2 linked regions of the Homo sapiens genome follow. The protein of the gene in region 1 purifies or fractionates together with the protein of each later gene. This does not show direct contact. Each region holds a gene or a part of one and is shown in the gene's direction. Other genes may lie near its edges.

Region 1 (8,115 bases):
CAAAGTGCTGGGATTACAGGCATGAGCCACTGCACCCGGCTGAAAGTACCCTTTTATGGCAGTGAAATTTGCATCCCTTAAAAAATAGGATAGTGTTTAAAAGAATAAGAATACATTCTTGAGGACAAATTCCATGTAACATTTAACACTGAAATGGACTCTAGGAGTTATTTTCTAGATATTGGAACCATAGGCTTACTTTGAGTGACTTAACCTAGAGTATATAGTGGATTCATGGGGAAATGCCAGCAAGAACCCATTTTCTGACTCCCAAAGCCACCTCCATTGCAGGTGCGACACACTTTATGGACCCCAGGGGGTGCTGAATTTCCAATGGCAGTGGAAACTTTGGTGCTTAAAGTGTTCACCTGTGCTCCAGGTCCTGGCCTGGACACTCCTGCGTTGGCCCAGCGCTTAGGCTCCGGGTTCTACCTGAGACCTCCATCATGGGTGTTGTTCTTTGCCCTGAGTCCCTGTGACCTGTTTCCACACTCCCACTAGCAAGGCCTCCAGCGGGGAAGCACAAAACACATTTCCGTCCTGCCTGCCCCCTTTTAGAGTGTTTCCCCTGTCTTTGGGGGTGATACCTTTGCAGGGATGTTGAACCCTCTTTCTCAGCCTAGGTGTTTGTTTCCTCCTTCCCAGATCATTGTCCTCTGCCCTGCTTTAGAACCTCAGAGAAACTCGTTTCTGGGCTCTTTTATCTGCTCAAAGTGACAGTTACTTTCACACAGAGATTGGGGACCTCAACTACTTGGGATGGCGAGGGAGACAGGAGACCCTACATCTGCCTCTCGTCCTCAAGAGCCTCCAGGTGTGGGGCTTTTGGGTGGTGCCTCCATCACCCAGCCCCGGCCCCCGTTGTTCTGCAGGTACACTCCCAGCTGAAGGACCTGGTGGACAACCACGCCAGTGTGTGGGCATGTGCCAGCTTCCAGGAGCTGTGGCCGTCTCCAGGGAACCTGAAGCTCTTTGAAAGGTATCTCTGCACCCTGAGAATGGCTCAGTCTTCTCCTGCCTTGGCCTCCCTATGTGCCAGTCTGTGTCTCACGGCCTGATTCAGCAACGATTTTCCTGTTGCTGTCTCCCATGACATTGCCTCATACCCTGGGGAGTGACTGAGGGTGGCAGACCTCACGCATCAGGCCGCACAAGCCACACACCTTCCAGCAGGCTATGCAGTCAGTCATCCCTCACGCCACTGACACGGGCCCGTGGTGCCTCCAGAGGGCTGTGATCCATTCCCACATGACCCAGACAAGAGTCACCTTCCTGTGGAAACTTCACTCAGCCTTCCTTCCCTTTGGTCAAAACCATCTGAATTCTATCCTATAGCGTTTCACTCACTGGCTGATCCCACCCCAACCTGCACCCCGCACCCTGGCCCCTGTTCACATGTGCTCATGGTCCCAGGTACCCGCCGCCCTCAGAACAAACCAAGGAACCACAGCTCAGGCGGGGATTTTTCTTTTTTGTTGTTGTTTTTTGTTTTTTGTTTTCGTTTTTGTTTTTTTCTTGAGACGGAGTCTCGCTCTGTCACCAGGCTGGAGTGCAGTGGTGCAATCTCAGCTCACTGCAACCACCAACTCCTGGTTCAAGCGATTCTCCTGCCTCAGCCTCCTGAGTAGCTAGGATTACAGGCACGCGCTACCACGCCCATCTAATTTTTGTATTCTTAGTAGAGATGGGGTTTCGCCATGTTGGCCAGGATGGTCTCGATCTCCTGACCTCCTGATCTCAGGCGGGCATTTTTCTGACAGGGATTCGCTGTGAGCCTCGTCCATCTGAGTTGCCAGAAATCCAGATCGACAGCCAACCAGGGCAGGCAGCCATGTTGCCGCGGCCATGCTTGGGCTGCTTCCAGGGGGAATGTATATATTTCTTATTGAGACATTATCCACACATCACACAATTCATCCATTTAAAGTGTATAACTCAGCCGGGTGTGGCGTCACACCTGTATTCCCAGCACTTTGGGAGGCCAAGGCGGGTGGATCACTTGAGGTCGGGAGTTCGAGACCAGCCCGGCCAACATGGCAAAACCCTGTCTCTATTAAAAATACAAAAATTAGCTGGATGCGGTGATGGGCACTTGTAGTCCCAGCTACTCTGGAGGCTGAAGCATGAGAATTGCTTAAACCCAGCAGGTGGAGGTTGCAGTGAGCCAAGATTGCGCCATTGCACTCCAGCCTGGGTGATGGGGTAAGACTGTCTCAAAAAAATAATAATAAAATAATAAAATATGGCTGGGCACAGTGGCTCACGCCTGTAATCCCAGCACTTTGGGAGACCAAGGCGGGCGGATCACGAGGTCAAGAGTTTGAGACCAGCCTGAGCAACATGGTGAAACCCTGTCTCTACTAAAAATACAAAAATTAGCTGGGTGGTGGCACATGCCTGTAATGCCAGCTATTCAGGAGGCTGAGGCAGGAGAATTGCTTGAACCCAGGAGGCAGAGGTTGCAGTGAGCCGAGATCGCACCACTGCACTCCAGCCTGAGCAACAGAGCGAGACTCCGTCTCAAAATAAATAAATAAGTAAATAAATAAATAAAATGTATAACTCATTGGTTTTTAGTATACTGAGAGTTGTACAGACATCACCAGTACTTAACTTTAGAACGTTCTCCTTACCCCAAGAAGAAAGCTTGTCCCCATCAGCAGTCACTTCCCATTTTCCCCACAATCCTGGAAACTCTAGACAACCCCTAATTGATTTTCTGTCTCTCCGGATTTGCCTTTTGTGAGGATTTCACATGGAATCATGCAACACGTGGTCTTTCGTGGCTGGCTTCTTTCACGGACCCTGATGTTTTCAAGGTTCATCTGTGTCATAGCATGTAATGGATAATTCGTATTTGATTACATGTTATTAAGAAATGTTCGACCGAGCGTGGTGGCTCACGCTTGTAATCCCAGCACTTTGGGAGGCCGAGGCGGGTGGATCATGAGATCAGATCGAGACCATCCTGGCTAACATGGTGAAACCCCGTCTCTACTAAAAATAGAAAAAATTAGACAGGCGTGGTGGCGGGCACCTGTGGTCCCAGCTACTCGGGAGGCTGAGGCAGGAGAATGGTGTGAACCTGGGAGGCGGAGCTTGTAGTGAGCCGAGATTGCGCCACTGCACTCCAGCCTGGGCAACAGAGCAGACTCCGTCTCAAAAAAAAAAAAGAAAAGAAAAGAAAAAAAAAAAGAAATGTTCTAGAGCCGGGCATGATGGCTCAAGCCTATAATCCCAGCACTTTATGAGGCCAAGGCAGGAGGATCACTTGGGTCTGGAATTCAAGACTAGCCTGGGCAACATAGCAAGACCCTGTCTCTAGAAAAGAAAATATTTTTTTTTGACTAGCTGAGCATGGTGGCACATGCCTGTAGTCCTAGCTACTTGGGATGCCGGGGTGGGAGAATGGCTTAAGCCCAGGAGGTTGAGGCTGCAGTGAGCTGTGATCGCACCACTGCACTCCAGCCTGGGCAACAGAGCAAGACCCTGTCTCAGAGAGAGAGAGATATATATATATATATGCACACACACACACACATATATATGCACACACATATATATATGCACACACACACATATATATATATATATATATATATATATATATATATATTCAATTCAGGGAACAAGTATTCTGACTTCTTCAAGTGCTGTAGTAGTTCATAACGTTTGTGGCATAAAATATTGTGATGCTTTATGTTCTTAATGTTTCAGGGCTGCTGAAAAGGGGAATTTCGAAGCTGCTGTGAAGCTGGGCATAGCCTACCTCTACAATGAAGGCCGTAAGTCCTCACCCCACCTGCATGTTGGCGCTTCAGATAAGTGTGAGCCTTTGGCCCTATGAAGAAGTGGTCCCCGTGTTAGCAGTTCAGTTGCTGTCCTTGCTCTATCCGATGGCCTGCCTCCCCATTCCCTCTCAGGAGCTCGTGCCCAGATGTACCCTGCTGAGGGACCTGCTAATGATACTCTGACTTTGCAGGTTACGAAAGTCGCCTCTTGTTTTAGCAAACCCTTTAATTTCAGTTGGCAAAGAGTGACTGAGCCAGAGCCTCAGCACGGGGGCTGTTTGGGCTCCCTGCCCTGTGCGCCATGAGCACGCAGACCTGCCTGTGGATGCTGGCCCTCTCCTTGGCCATCCTCTTAGAACTCTCGAGACAGAGTTCAGCGTGCCCTGTAACACAGAGCCAGGCTTCTAAACGGGAAGCAGGTACAGGCAGGTTAGAACTGGCCTGGTGCCTGGATCCCTTCATCCCCAGAGGCCAGGTGCTCCTTGAAAGAAACTTGCGCAGCCTTTTCTTCTACCAGTTAACTGCTTATCTGCTCAGCACCCCAAGGAACGAGCCCATGATCTGTCCCAGCTCTCAAAACAAGTAAACACTGGGATGTAGCCTCCCACATTTGTACTTCTAAACGATCTGGTGTCTTGCTGGGAGAGAGTCCCTACCTGGCCGGCTGGCAGAATTGTGACTGACAGGGACCATGAGCAACACCCTCCTCCAGAATCAGGGGAGCCGAGGTCCTACCCCTACCCTCCCATCAAAGAGCAGTTCCCAGACATAAAATTCACACACCATACAGTTCACCCCTCTAAAGCCTGCAATTCTGTGGTTTTTTAGGATATTCACAGGGTTGTGCAGCCATTGCCACTGTCTAATTTTAGAATATTCTCCTCGTCCCAAAAAGAACCCCCACCCCTGCCCTGGACCCATTACCAGGGGTCAGGCGGTGGTTCCCAGCTGGAGGGAGGGTGGGACATGAAGCGTCGCGGGGTCTCCTTCCCCTGACCTTCAGAATCCAGGCTTCCGGGAGGACCACAGCAGGGGCATTGATCACAATGACCCACCTGTTCTAGACATTAATGAAGTAGGGGGAGAAAAGACAGGTGCCCCCATCCTGGAGGGCTCTACTCTCCTGAAACACAGCTGCTTTGCACTATGGTGGGCTTCAGGCATTACACTTTCCACCAAGACCATGGAGAGCTTTCCACATTCCGTCCCTAAGAGACATCCCTGGGCTCTGTCCTGTCTGTCCCCGCAGTGTCTGTGTCTGATGAGGCCCGCGCAGAAGTGAATGGCCTGAAGGCCTCTCGCTTCTTCAGTCTCGCTGAGCGGCTGAATGTGGGTGCCGCACCTTTCATCTGGCTCTTCATCCGCCCTCCGTGGTCGGTGAGCGGAAGCTGCTGCAAGGCCGTGGTTCACGAGAGCCTCAGGGCAGAGTGCCAGCTGCAGAGGGTGAGTCTGGGCGAGGGGCAGCACCTGCGAGGCCACCTGCAGGGTCCCAGGACACAGGAAGACCCCGAGGGTAGATCCTGGACCCTGGAAAGTCAGGAGCCTAAGGGAAGTGAAGATGCAGAAAACTGAGAGTGCAGATATGGGGAACGCATCTGGAAATCAGCTGGCACAGAGGAGGAAGCCTGAGAGCCAGGGTGGGCTGTGGAGTTCTGGGTACACGTGCTGACAGCTGGAAACATGGGGCTGAGGCTGCATGGGGCAGTGGGAGCTCAAGACACAAATCTGGCCAGGTGTGGTGGCTCACGCCTGTCATCCTAGCACTTTGGGAGGCCGAGGCTGGAGAATTGCTTGTGGCCAGGTGTTCGAGACCAGTCTGGGCAACATGATGAAATCTCGAAACCTCGTCTCTACAAAAAATACAAAAAAGTTAGCCAGGGGTGGTGGTGCATACCTATAGTCCCAGCTACTCAGGAGGCTGCGGTGGGAGGATCGCTTGAGCCTGGGAGGTTGAGCTTGCAATGAGCCGTGACTATGCCAATGCACTCCAGCCTGGGTGACAGAGCAAGACCCTGTTTCCCTTTAAAAAAAAAAAAAAAAAAAGACTGAAATCTGGGAGTGGCCCTCTGCAGGGGAGGGAGGGCCAGACAGCAGGGCCATGGGCATGGGACCCAAAGACAGACAAGGGAGTGGTGGCCCCCGGGCAGTTCTCTGTGCTGGAAATCACACTTCTTTCTCCTTTTTTTAAAGACTCACAAAGCATCCATATTGCACTGCTTGGGCAGAGTGCTGAGTCTGTTCGAGGTGAGTCAAGTTGTTCTCTGCACTGGGACTTTGTGTTCGATACATCCCTAGCCGAGATCCTGGAACTGAAAAGCAGCAGAAGGGGGTGTCCAAGGCCCAAAACAAAAGGCAAGCCTTGCCCAGAAAGGCCTAGCTGGAGAAGCCAGGGGACACATGTGGGCCTGGCCACGGGCTCCGATCCTGGCTCCATGACCCGCCTGGCAGGGGAGTGGGGGACGGTGAGAACAGCAGAGCAGATCTCAAGGAGGCATCGAACCTCGATGCTCACTCGTCTGCTGGCCCTGCTCCTCGTGGGCCTCTCCTGCTCGTGTGGACCTCTCTGCCTGGCCAAAATGGTGAAACCACGTCTTTACTAAAAAACACAAAAATTAGCTGGGCGTGGTGGCGGGTGCCCATAATCCCAGCTACTCAGGAGGCTGAGGCAGGGAGAATTGCTTGAACCTGGGAAGCGGAGGTTGCAGTGAGCCGAGATTGCACCACTGCACTCCAGCCTGGCAACAGAGTGAGACTCAGTCTCAGAAAAAAAAAAAAAAAGTATGGAAAAGGAGGAAGATGGTGAGTAGAGTGATTGAACATCAAGTAAAGAATAAGGGCCGGTCATGGTGGCTCATTCCTGTAATCCCAGCACCTTGGGAGGCCGAGGCGGGTGGATCACCTGAGGTCAGGAGTTTGAGACCAACCTGGCCAATGTGTTGAAACCACGTCTTTACTAAAAAACACAAAAATTAGCCGGGCATGGTGGTGGGCACCTGTAATCCTAGCTACTTGGGAGGCTGAGGCATGAGAGTTGCTTGAACCCGGGAAGCTGAGGTTTTAGTTAGCCAAGATCGTGCCACTATACTTTGGCCTGGGTGACAGAGGGAGACTCTGCCTCAACAACAACAAAAAAACCAGCCAGGCACAGTGGCTCATGCCTGTAATCCCAGCACTTTGGGAGACTGAGGTGGGTGGATCACCTGAGGCCAGGATTTTGAGACCAGCCTGGCCAACATGGTGAAACCCCGTCTCTACTAAAAATACAAAAATTAGCCGGGCATGATGGTGGGCTCCTGTAATCCCAGCTACTCAGGAGGCTGAGGCAGGAGAATTGGTTGAACCCAGGAGGCGGAGGTTGCAGTGAGCCAGGATGGCGCCATTGCACTCCAACCTGGGCGACGAGTGAAACTGTCTCAAAAAATAAAAATGAAAAAGAATAAGGGAACAATGAACTCTGCTGGGATTTATTCTAGGATGAGGAGAAGCAGCAGCAGGCCCATGACCTGTTTGAGGAGGCTGCTCATCAGGGATGTCTGACCAGCTCCTACCTCCTCTGGGAAAGCGACAGGAGGACAGATGTGAGTGGTGCCTGCTCTGGGTCGGGGGGAGTTATGCTGGACAAAGGCGTAGTTGATGCTGGTCCTTGGATGCGTTTCTGTCCACAAAAGGGAGGTGGCTCTTGCTGCTCCCGGTCTCTCAGCCTCCGGGAACCACTGGTCAGTCGGCTATTCTTGGTACCCCCAAAAATGACTCCACCATTTGAGAGAGAAGAGGTGGGAAGTTAGCGTAGTGTCGGCCCTTCTGGGTCTTGGTTCTGAGTTCCTCCCAAGACACAGTTGTACAAAGGCTCGGTGATCTCCCATTGACAGGTGTCAGATCCTGGGCGATGCCTCCACAGCTTCCGAAAACTCAGGGACTACGCTGCCAAAGGCTGCTGGGAAGCGCAGGTGAGGTGCGGGGCTGGGATGACGTGGGGAGCTGGCCTTTCTCCCTCCAGCCTTGGGGCAGGACTATCTGGGCTCCCACATTGGGGGGCAGGACTATCTGGGCTCCCACATGGGAGGCCAGGATTGAGGGACACCCTAAGATCGGTTCAGCACTGGAACTGGTCCTAAAGGACAGGTACACTGTGAGAAGAGCTGGGAAATGCGTTATTCATCTCTGCCTATCCACTCTTGCCTCTCAGCCAGCCAACCTCTTAATTTTCAAATGCTTGTGAGCTATAGCTGCTGTCAAAATTTGTGCCATTCTTGAAAGTTGTCCCATAGGTAGAACTGATCTTGACAACAAAACTTGAGGCTACTTGAGAGCAGAGGGGCGTGGA
Region 2 (7,889 bases), on another chromosome or scaffold:
CGCGTGCCCTGCAGCTAATTCTGGATGTGAGTTGGGACCTTTGGGAGTGGAATGTGGGCTGGGGCTCACTGAGCAGCGAGCTGCACCAGGGGTGCCGCTTCAGCCTCCAGCCTCCCTGCCGGGAGCCTGCGGCCGGTGGGAGGGGTCTCAACGAGGCCTTGGCCTGGCCTGGCCGCCTCTCCTAGGCTCCGTTTTCTTCTGGGAAATGGAGGTCTTTGGTCAAGGCTGAGTGGGGCCTGGAGAGGAGGGCGGGGGCTGCAAATGGGTCAGTGGCTGGCACCCCTCCCCAGGTGCTGAACCCCGAGACCAGTGAGGATGAGAATGACCGTGTGGTGGTGACGGACGATTCTGATGAGCGGCGGCTGAAGGGTGCAGAGGTGTTGCCAGCATGGGCCGGGCGGGGGCGGTGGGGAGTGGGACGATCGGGGAGGTGTGTGACGCGCCTGCCTCTACCACACAGGACAAGAGCGAGGAAGGTGAGGACAACAGAAGCTCAGAGAGTGAAGAGGAGAGCGAGGGGGAGGAGAGCGAGGAGGAGGAGCGCGACGGGGACGTGGATCAGGGCTTCCGGGAACAGCTGATGACCGTGCTGCAGGCTGGGAAGGCGCTGGTGAGTGGGGGAGGTGGAGGGGGGGGCGGCCGGGGAGGGCTCGGGTGTCCCCATGTTGTGTGCCTGCCCGAGGCCTGGCTGACCGCTGGGCCTCTGTCCCTCAGGGTGGAGAGGACAGTGAGAACGAGGAGGAGCTGGGGGATGAGGCCATGATGGCCCTGGACCAGAGCCTCGCCAGCCTCTTTGCCGAGCAGAAGCTGCGTATCCAGGCCCGGCGAGACGAGAAGAACAAGCTGCAGAAGGAGAAGGCTCTGCGGCGCGACTTCCAGATCCGGGTGAGCCTGGGGGCGGGCCGCACCCACCCCCGCCTCCCTGTGCGCCCACCCCCGCCTCCCTGTGCGCCCACCCCCGTGTTGCTGACCTGCCCTCCTGGCTGCAGGTGCTGGACCTGGTGGAGGTGCTAGTGACCAAGCAGCCCGAGAATGCCCTGGTCCTGGAGCTGCTGGAGCCGCTGCTGAGCATCATCCGGCGCAGCCTGCGCAGCAGCAGCTCCAAACAGGAGCAGGACCTTCTGCACAAGACGGCGCGCATCTTCACGTGAGCACGGGGGTGCAGGGCGGGCAGGTGTGGCCGGCAGCCCCCAGGCGCAGGAGAGCCAGAGCTCTAGGCTTGCTGTCTGCACAGGAAGGAGAGAGCCAAGCTTCCAGCCTGGGCCCCTAGCTCGCAGGCTCACTGCTCAGCCCTAGAGGCACACGTCACTTAGTGATTCCCACAGTCCTTGCTTCATCCCCGCGTTCTCCCGACACAGTGCCAACAGTGCCCTGGAGCTGGGGTCCATCCCTGCCCTTGACAGTCTCAAGTGGGGCTGTGCCAACAGTGCCCTGGAGCTGGGGTCCATCCCTGCCCTTGACAGTCTCAAGTGGGGCTGTGCTGGGGTGGAGGGGGACAGTGGGTGCACCTGTGGCAGGGGACACCCAACCCAGTCCTCGGAGGTGTAGTGTGCATGGGAGTTTGTCAGGCTGGGAGGCCTTGGGCAGGGCAGAAAGGGAGGAAGAGCATCCTGACGGGAGCTGGTCAGACACGCAGCTGGAAGGTCAGGCAAGCAGCGAGGCCACAGACCCCCGCACCCTCGCAGGCCCTGACCCTAGCGGTGCTGGAGGCCACAGAGGCATTATCAGCAAGAGCAGTGGCGTGGGGAAGGGTCTGAGTCTGGTTTGCCTTTTCAGAAACGGCTGGCAGCGTGGAGAAGGGTTTGGGAGGGGCTGTGCTGGAGGCAGAGGGCCCAGGAGGGAGGCGGTGGCAGGCGTGGGAGAGACAGGCAGGCACCTGGTAGACCTGCCTTCAGAGCTCAGGTGCTGGGGAGGTGAAGGCCTGGGAGCTGGGGCGCTGCGTGGATAGTCAGGAGGGGTGGGGAGTGTGACTGGCAGTGCATTCTTCACAAACCCAGGCCCGCCCGGGCCACGCCTTCTCAGATAGTTCTGCCAGCGTGCGTGGACAGTGTCGTTTGTTGAGCATCCTGCCTCTTGCCCCCATTATATCCCCGGCCCTGCAGGGCCACAGAGGGTTCTAAGCACATGAACCCTTGTCTCGCTTTACAAAAGGCCTGAAGGCCACTGCCCCATGAGAGACAAGTGTAGACAGGAGGGGTGCCCCAGGCAGGCAGTTGGCCCTTGGTGCAGCCTCCACTCAGGGAGCTGTTCTGTTCTCCCCTGGAGCGCCCCTGTCACCCCAGCACTCTGAGCCCACACAGCTTCCAGGCAGCCTGCAGGCGGCCCTGGGCCCTCCTCTGTGGCCTGGGTCGCCTCTGTCGTCTTCTAGGTCTGTTTCCCCACTTATAAAGTGGGACTTGGGTTGGCTCTGCTTGGCGGAGCAGGGTGGACCGAGAATGTTCTGACCAGCTCTCGTCCTCACCACCCACAGGCACCACCTGTGCCGTGCCCGGCGCTACTGCCACGACTTGGGTGAGCGCGCAGGGGCCCTGCACGCCCAGGTGGAGCGGTTGGTGCAGCAGGCTGGCCGCCAGCCCGACTCCCCCACCGCCCTCTACCACTTCAACGCCTCTCTCTACCTGCTCCGGGTCTTGAAGGGCAACACTGCTGAGGGCTGCGTGCATGAGACACAGGAGAAGCAGAAAGCTGGCACTGACCCCAGCCACATGCCCACGGGCCCGCAGGTGAGCAGGGCCTGGCCCAGGAGCAGCCCCAGGCATTTCACAGCCAGGGAGTGGAGGCCGGGACTTCCCCAGGGCCCAACCCTCAGCCTTCTGATGAAGGTAGGCCAGGCTCTGCTCCCATCCCAGGGACCCCTCTCCTGGCCTCACCCAGCTCGCTCTCCCCTGGCCTAGGCTGCCAGCTGCTTGGACTTGAACCTGGTGACCCGGGTGTACTCGACAGCACTGAGCTCCTTCCTGACCAAGCGCAACAGCCCCCTCACAGTTCCCATGTTCCTCAGCCTCTTCTCCCGGCACCCGGTGAGTGTTGGGGCCTGCCCTGCTTCCTCATGGTCCCTGCTCAGCCCAGCCTGCACCTCACAGCCCTTGTCACTCCCCACCAGGTGCTCTGTCAGAGCCTGCTCCCCATCCTGGTCCAGCATATCACGGGCCCGGTGCGGCCCCGTCATCAGGTGAGAGACTTCCCAGCTCCCAGCCCAGGGCCTGTCTGAATTAACCCGCTTAACCCTCTTCTGACTGGATATTGTGAGGCCCCAGAGCGCTGTCCTGGTGAGCACGGGCACAGCTGTCCCTGCCCCACTGGCTTGGCTGTGGGTACATGGTCTCTGAAGGGGGTGGCCGTGCCCTGGCCCCTGCCACACAGTGAACACACAGGAGCTGAGGGGGCAGGGCCAGCCTCACTCCCGCAGCCACTGCTGCCCATCTGGCCACACACAGGATGCCCCTGGTAGTGTCTGCTCTGGTGCCAGGGCTGTTGGGGGCAGGCTGGAGGAAGATGGCACTAAGCCAATAATGGGCAGGAATTGTCCCAACCTGAGGTCCCACCTCTATCCAGCTGGGAGGCCTTGGTGTCCCCACCTGCACACAAAGGCACAGGAGCAGGTAGTCACAGAGCCCAGAGCAGCAGGCAGCCTCACACGCTGCCCACAGCAGTGCCCAGCGGGCCCCCGAGCCCTCATGCATCCCTGAGCCGTGAGCACCCAACGTGCCAAGGCTCCTGCCACCCACCTTTGCCCACCCACAGGCCTGCCTGCTGCTCCAGAAGACCCTGTCCATGCGGGAGGTGAGGTCGTGCTTTGAGGACCCCGAGTGGAAGCAGCTGATGGGCCAGGTCCTAGCAAAGGTCACCGAGGTAACAGCCGGGGGGCGCCCTTTCCCCACCCCCTCAGAATCAGTTCTCCGGGAGACCGATCTCTGGGAAAGAAGTGAGGATTGGAGCCTGAGTCCAGAGTCGGGAGAACTGGGGTTGTCCCAGGAGACGGTCCCTGCCTCTGGGCTTTACTTCCGGCTGGGAAACAGAAAGGCTTTGAGCAGCTCTCCGGAGTGCCTCAGCCTGGCCACCCTTCCCTAGAACTTGCGCGTGCTGGGGGAGGCGCAGACCAAGGCGCAGCATCAGCAGGCACTGTCCTCCCTGGAGCTGCTCAACGTTCTCTTCAGGACCTGCAAACATGAGGTGAGGCGGGGGCCCAGTCCGCGGTCGTGTTCGGGTTCCTCTTGGGGGCCTTGGGGCCTCCCGGCCAGCAGTGCCATGCCCGGGCTGGACTGCAGGGATGGGGGTCATGTGGGGAAACTTCTCAGTGCCTGGGCCAGGGCTCTGGGCTGCCATTTGGGCAGTTACCAAACCATGGATGGGTGAGTGACTTGGGAAGGGACTGTGCCACCCTGTCCTCCTCCTGCAGGGCGGGGTGAGAGGGGGTGGGGTGGCACTGCCACATCCCGTGAGAAAGCCGAGAAGGGGCTGGCAGGGCTGGAGACTGTGGAAGGGTTGGAGAAGATTCAGGGTGAGCAGCCAGGTTTCCAGGCCTGGTACAGGAGTGTGGGCAGCCATCAGGGCAGGGCTGGGAGGCAGCTGGAGGTGGCCATCTGGGTCCCCCGGTCTGGCCCAGAGGGCGGGGTTTGGGAATCTTCAGCATAGGTGCTAGTCAGCCCTTGTGGAGGGAGAGCTTGCCAAGGGGGTGCTGGCAGGCAGAGGCGGGGCCCGGGACGGGGCCTTACAAAACTGGCTGATAGTGAGGAAGCCAGGAGAGCAGGGCTCCCGGAAGCTGGCGGATTCCAACAATAACCCATTCAGGATGTGCAGGAAGGTGGCAGGGTTGGGTGGGGAAGCGCTTTGGCAGCCCCGCGGTGATGGAGTGCTGGGGAGTGGCCCTCTTGGAGGTGGGTGGGCCCGGGCCACTGCTGGAGGGGAGGACACCGAGACTCTGAGACCAGGCCTTTGGCTATGGGAAGGAGGAGAACCAACACCTGGGGCGCGTGTTTCCTCCCTCGGTAAGAGACACGGATGACTTAACAGGCAGAAGGAGAGGCTGAGGCCCAGGAAGGGGCAGGGGTCACTGGTGAGGCAGCAACAGGGCAGAGGTGGGAAGACTGGGAGCCCGCGAGAGGCCCCGCCCTCTGTGGCCCCACAGCTCTGCCTTCCCACCCTCTGCAGAAGCTGACCTTGGACCTGACGGTGCTCCTGGGTGTGCTGCAGGGGCAACAGCAGAGCCTACAGCAGGGGGCACACTCCACCGGCTCCAGCCGCCTGCACGACCTCTACTGGCAGGCCATGAAAACCCTGGGAGTCCAGTAGGTTCTGGGAGGGGGACACACACCTTGGGTAGGGGCTGGGAACACCCTCACGCTGCTGCACACACACACACGCTGCACACACGCTGCTGCACACGCACACTGCACACGCATGCTGCTGCACACACATGCACTCAAGCGCATTCTCAGATGTGGGAGCTGTAGGACCCTCACAGGACCCTCGCAGGAGCCTCGCAGGACCCTCGCAGGACCCAGGGGCCTCGCAGGACCCTCATAGGACCCTCACGGGACCCTCATAGGGGCCTCACAGAACCTAGGGGCCTCAGAGGACCCTCAGAATCCAGGTGGAGGTAGCAGTCGCGGTGGCGGTGGCTGCTGCCCTCGATGGGCACCTTCTAACCTTGCTCACTTCCCTTCAGGCGCCCCAAGTTGGAGAAGAAGGATGCCAAGGAGATCCCCAGTGCCACCCAGAGCCCCATCAGTAAGAAGCGGAAGAAAAAGGGATTCTTGCCAGAGACGAAGAAGCGCAAGAAACGCAAGTCAGAGGATGGCACGCCAGCGGAGGATGGCACACCTGCAGCCACCGGCGGGAGCCAGCCCCCCAGCATGGGCAGGAAGAAGAGGAACAGGACAAAGGCTAAGGTCCCAGCCCAGGCAAACGGGACGCCAACCACCAAGAGTCCAGCCCCTGGCGCCCCCACCCGGAGCCCCAGCACCCCTGCCAAATCCCCAAAACTGCAGAAGAAAAACCAGAAGCCGTCCCAGGTGAATGGAGCTCCCGGGTCCCCCACGGAACCTGCAGGCCAAAAGCAGCATCAGAAGGCTCTTCCCAAAAAGGGGGTCTTGGGCAAATCACCACTGTCCGCGCTGGCACGGAAAAAGGCAAGGCTGTCTTTGGTCATCAGGAGTCCCAGCCTGCTTCAGAGTGGGGCCAAGAAGAAAGCACAGGTGAGGAAGGCAGGGAAGCCCTGAGCACAGGTACGGGCCCCCCTCAGCCCCTGCCTCCATCTGCCTGAGACGCCTATTTTTTTTTTTTTTTTTTAAACCATGATTTTAATACGCAAGCTGTTTCTAAGGCGCTGCCACTGGGGAGGGTGGCTGTTGCCGCCTGCCCGGGCATCCTGCTCTGGCAAGCACAGCCTGAGCCATTCCTGCAGGGGTCCCAGGGTGCAGAGACCTCCCCACCCCCGGTTCTGGGCTGGGACCCTGGCTCCAGGGCCATGTCCAGGGCTCTGGTGTTTGCCTGGGTTGGTGCAGGTTGATGTGCTGGCTGCAGGCAGGTGTGACCATCTCTCGTGCCTGCCACCTCTTTGCCCCCAGGCTTTTTTGCTGTGAGGGAGCCACCAGGGGGTGATTTAAATAGGTTTATTTCTTCATTTACAAGAGGAATATATTTGGCTTCTCTCTTAAGACTCTGAGATTCACAATCAGCAGCTCTAAAAAATAAAGGAGCAGTTTGGCTTCCGGAAGGAAGAGGAGGCAACACTCGGACCTGGTTCTTGTACAACAAGAAAACATCGCTGGGGCCCCGCTGAGGCTGGAGTGGGGGTGGAGGCTGGTCTTTGGAGGATGCCACCCCCACCCCATCCTCTTGTCAGGCCCTCGGGGTACCCCAGAGCTTGGTGGGTGAGTATTCCACCTGCTTACACACCACTGAAGCCACAGCCAGCCAGTAACTAAGGGGCAAGAAGAGCATTGTCCAAGCTGGCTCTTGGGGGGTCCCCCATTGGCCACAAGGCCTCACCCCCCACCCCACCCCCGCACCAGAACCACCTTGATTGCAGCAGAAGTGCAGGGAGTGGGTGACGCAGGGGGCTAAGCTCCCCCAAAGCGGGTTGGGGCTGGTGTGAAGTTGGCAGCTGCATCCTGGTGTGTGCATGGATGGGAGGTGGGTGATCGAAGGCCTGGCCCCCCCCTGGGGTCACTTGGTGGAATGCCAGCAGCCAGTGTTTGGGTAGGGGCCGCCTCTCCCGGGGCCTCAGCCTCAGCTCTGGGGCAGGAAGCTTTGTGGATAGCTGCTTCCTCCAGCAGCCGGAGCCCTGGCTACTGCCCCATGGATTCTGGGAATGGTCTCCTGGGCCCTGCCCCTGGAAAAGGCTCAGCTCAGCCTCGGGGAAGGAGTGGGGTCCTGGCTTGGGGGGTGGTGGCAGGGAGAGAAGCCCTGCAGAGTTGGGCTGGTGTGCACCTGCCAGAGACCTTGAGCCTGGGGGCACAGGTGGTGTACAGCTGCAGCCAGGGCCTTCACCCCTGGTGATGCCAGCTTGTCAGAACAGTCCCCATCTGGGACCTCCAGGCTGGGAGCCAACCCGAGACAGTGAGACAGTGTCCTCCAGGGAGTACCCAGAGACTTGGGCGCCCAGCTTCATTTGCCAGGTTGCGTCCAATATCCCCAAGGTCCGAGGCCCAGCTGAGCAGTGGTCCCTGCATACCAGGCCCTCGCGTGAGCCTCAAAGCCGGGACTGCCGCCCTGAGGCCTGGGCCACCTGCTCTCCGTATGGTCCAGGGTCTGTTGAGTCTTCAAAGCTGCAGATCGTGCTTTGCCCAGCAAGTTGTGTGGGAAAGTCCAGCCCCCTGGCCCTTCGTTCCAGGGAGGGCAGGGACTTGCCCAAGATCACATAAGCTGGTGGCAGGCCAGGCTCT

Evidence for each region.
Region 2: the proteins of CCNF (region 1) and MYBBP1A purify together in Homo sapiens (affinity purification with mass spectrometry, with the first as the bait; 2 studies listed by BioGRID). This does not show direct contact.

Annotation. Positions count from the first base shown.
Region 1 is NC_000016.10:2,432,089-2,440,203, forward strand, and holds part of CCNF (cyclin-F), read left to right. Parts: intron 1-872; coding exon 873-979; intron 980-3,717; coding exon 3,718-3,785; intron 3,786-5,040; coding exon 5,041-5,234; intron 5,235-5,981; coding exon 5,982-6,035; intron 6,036-7,264; coding exon 7,265-7,369; intron 7,370-7,660; coding exon 7,661-7,738; intron 7,739-8,115. UniProt on the Homo sapiens protein: Substrate recognition component of a SCF (SKP1-CUL1-F-box protein) E3 ubiquitin-protein ligase complex which mediates the ubiquitination and subsequent proteasomal degradation of target proteins.
Region 2 is NC_000017.11:4,537,747-4,545,635, reverse strand, and holds the end of MYBBP1A (myb-binding protein 1A), read left to right. Parts: coding exon 1-26; intron 27-290; coding exon 291-377; intron 378-460; coding exon 461-610; intron 611-714; coding exon 715-885; intron 886-989; coding exon 990-1,147; intron 1,148-2,470; coding exon 2,471-2,723; intron 2,724-2,894; coding exon 2,895-3,020; intron 3,021-3,103; coding exon 3,104-3,172; intron 3,173-3,744; coding exon 3,745-3,852; intron 3,853-4,071; coding exon 4,072-4,173; intron 4,174-5,151; coding exon 5,152-5,288; intron 5,289-5,668; coding exon 5,669-6,221; 3' UTR 6,222-6,660; coding exon of another isoform or gene 6,661-6,696; 3' UTR 6,697-6,732; downstream 6,733-7,889. UniProt on the Homo sapiens protein: May activate or repress transcription via interactions with sequence specific DNA-binding proteins. Repression may be mediated at least in part by histone deacetylase activity (HDAC activity).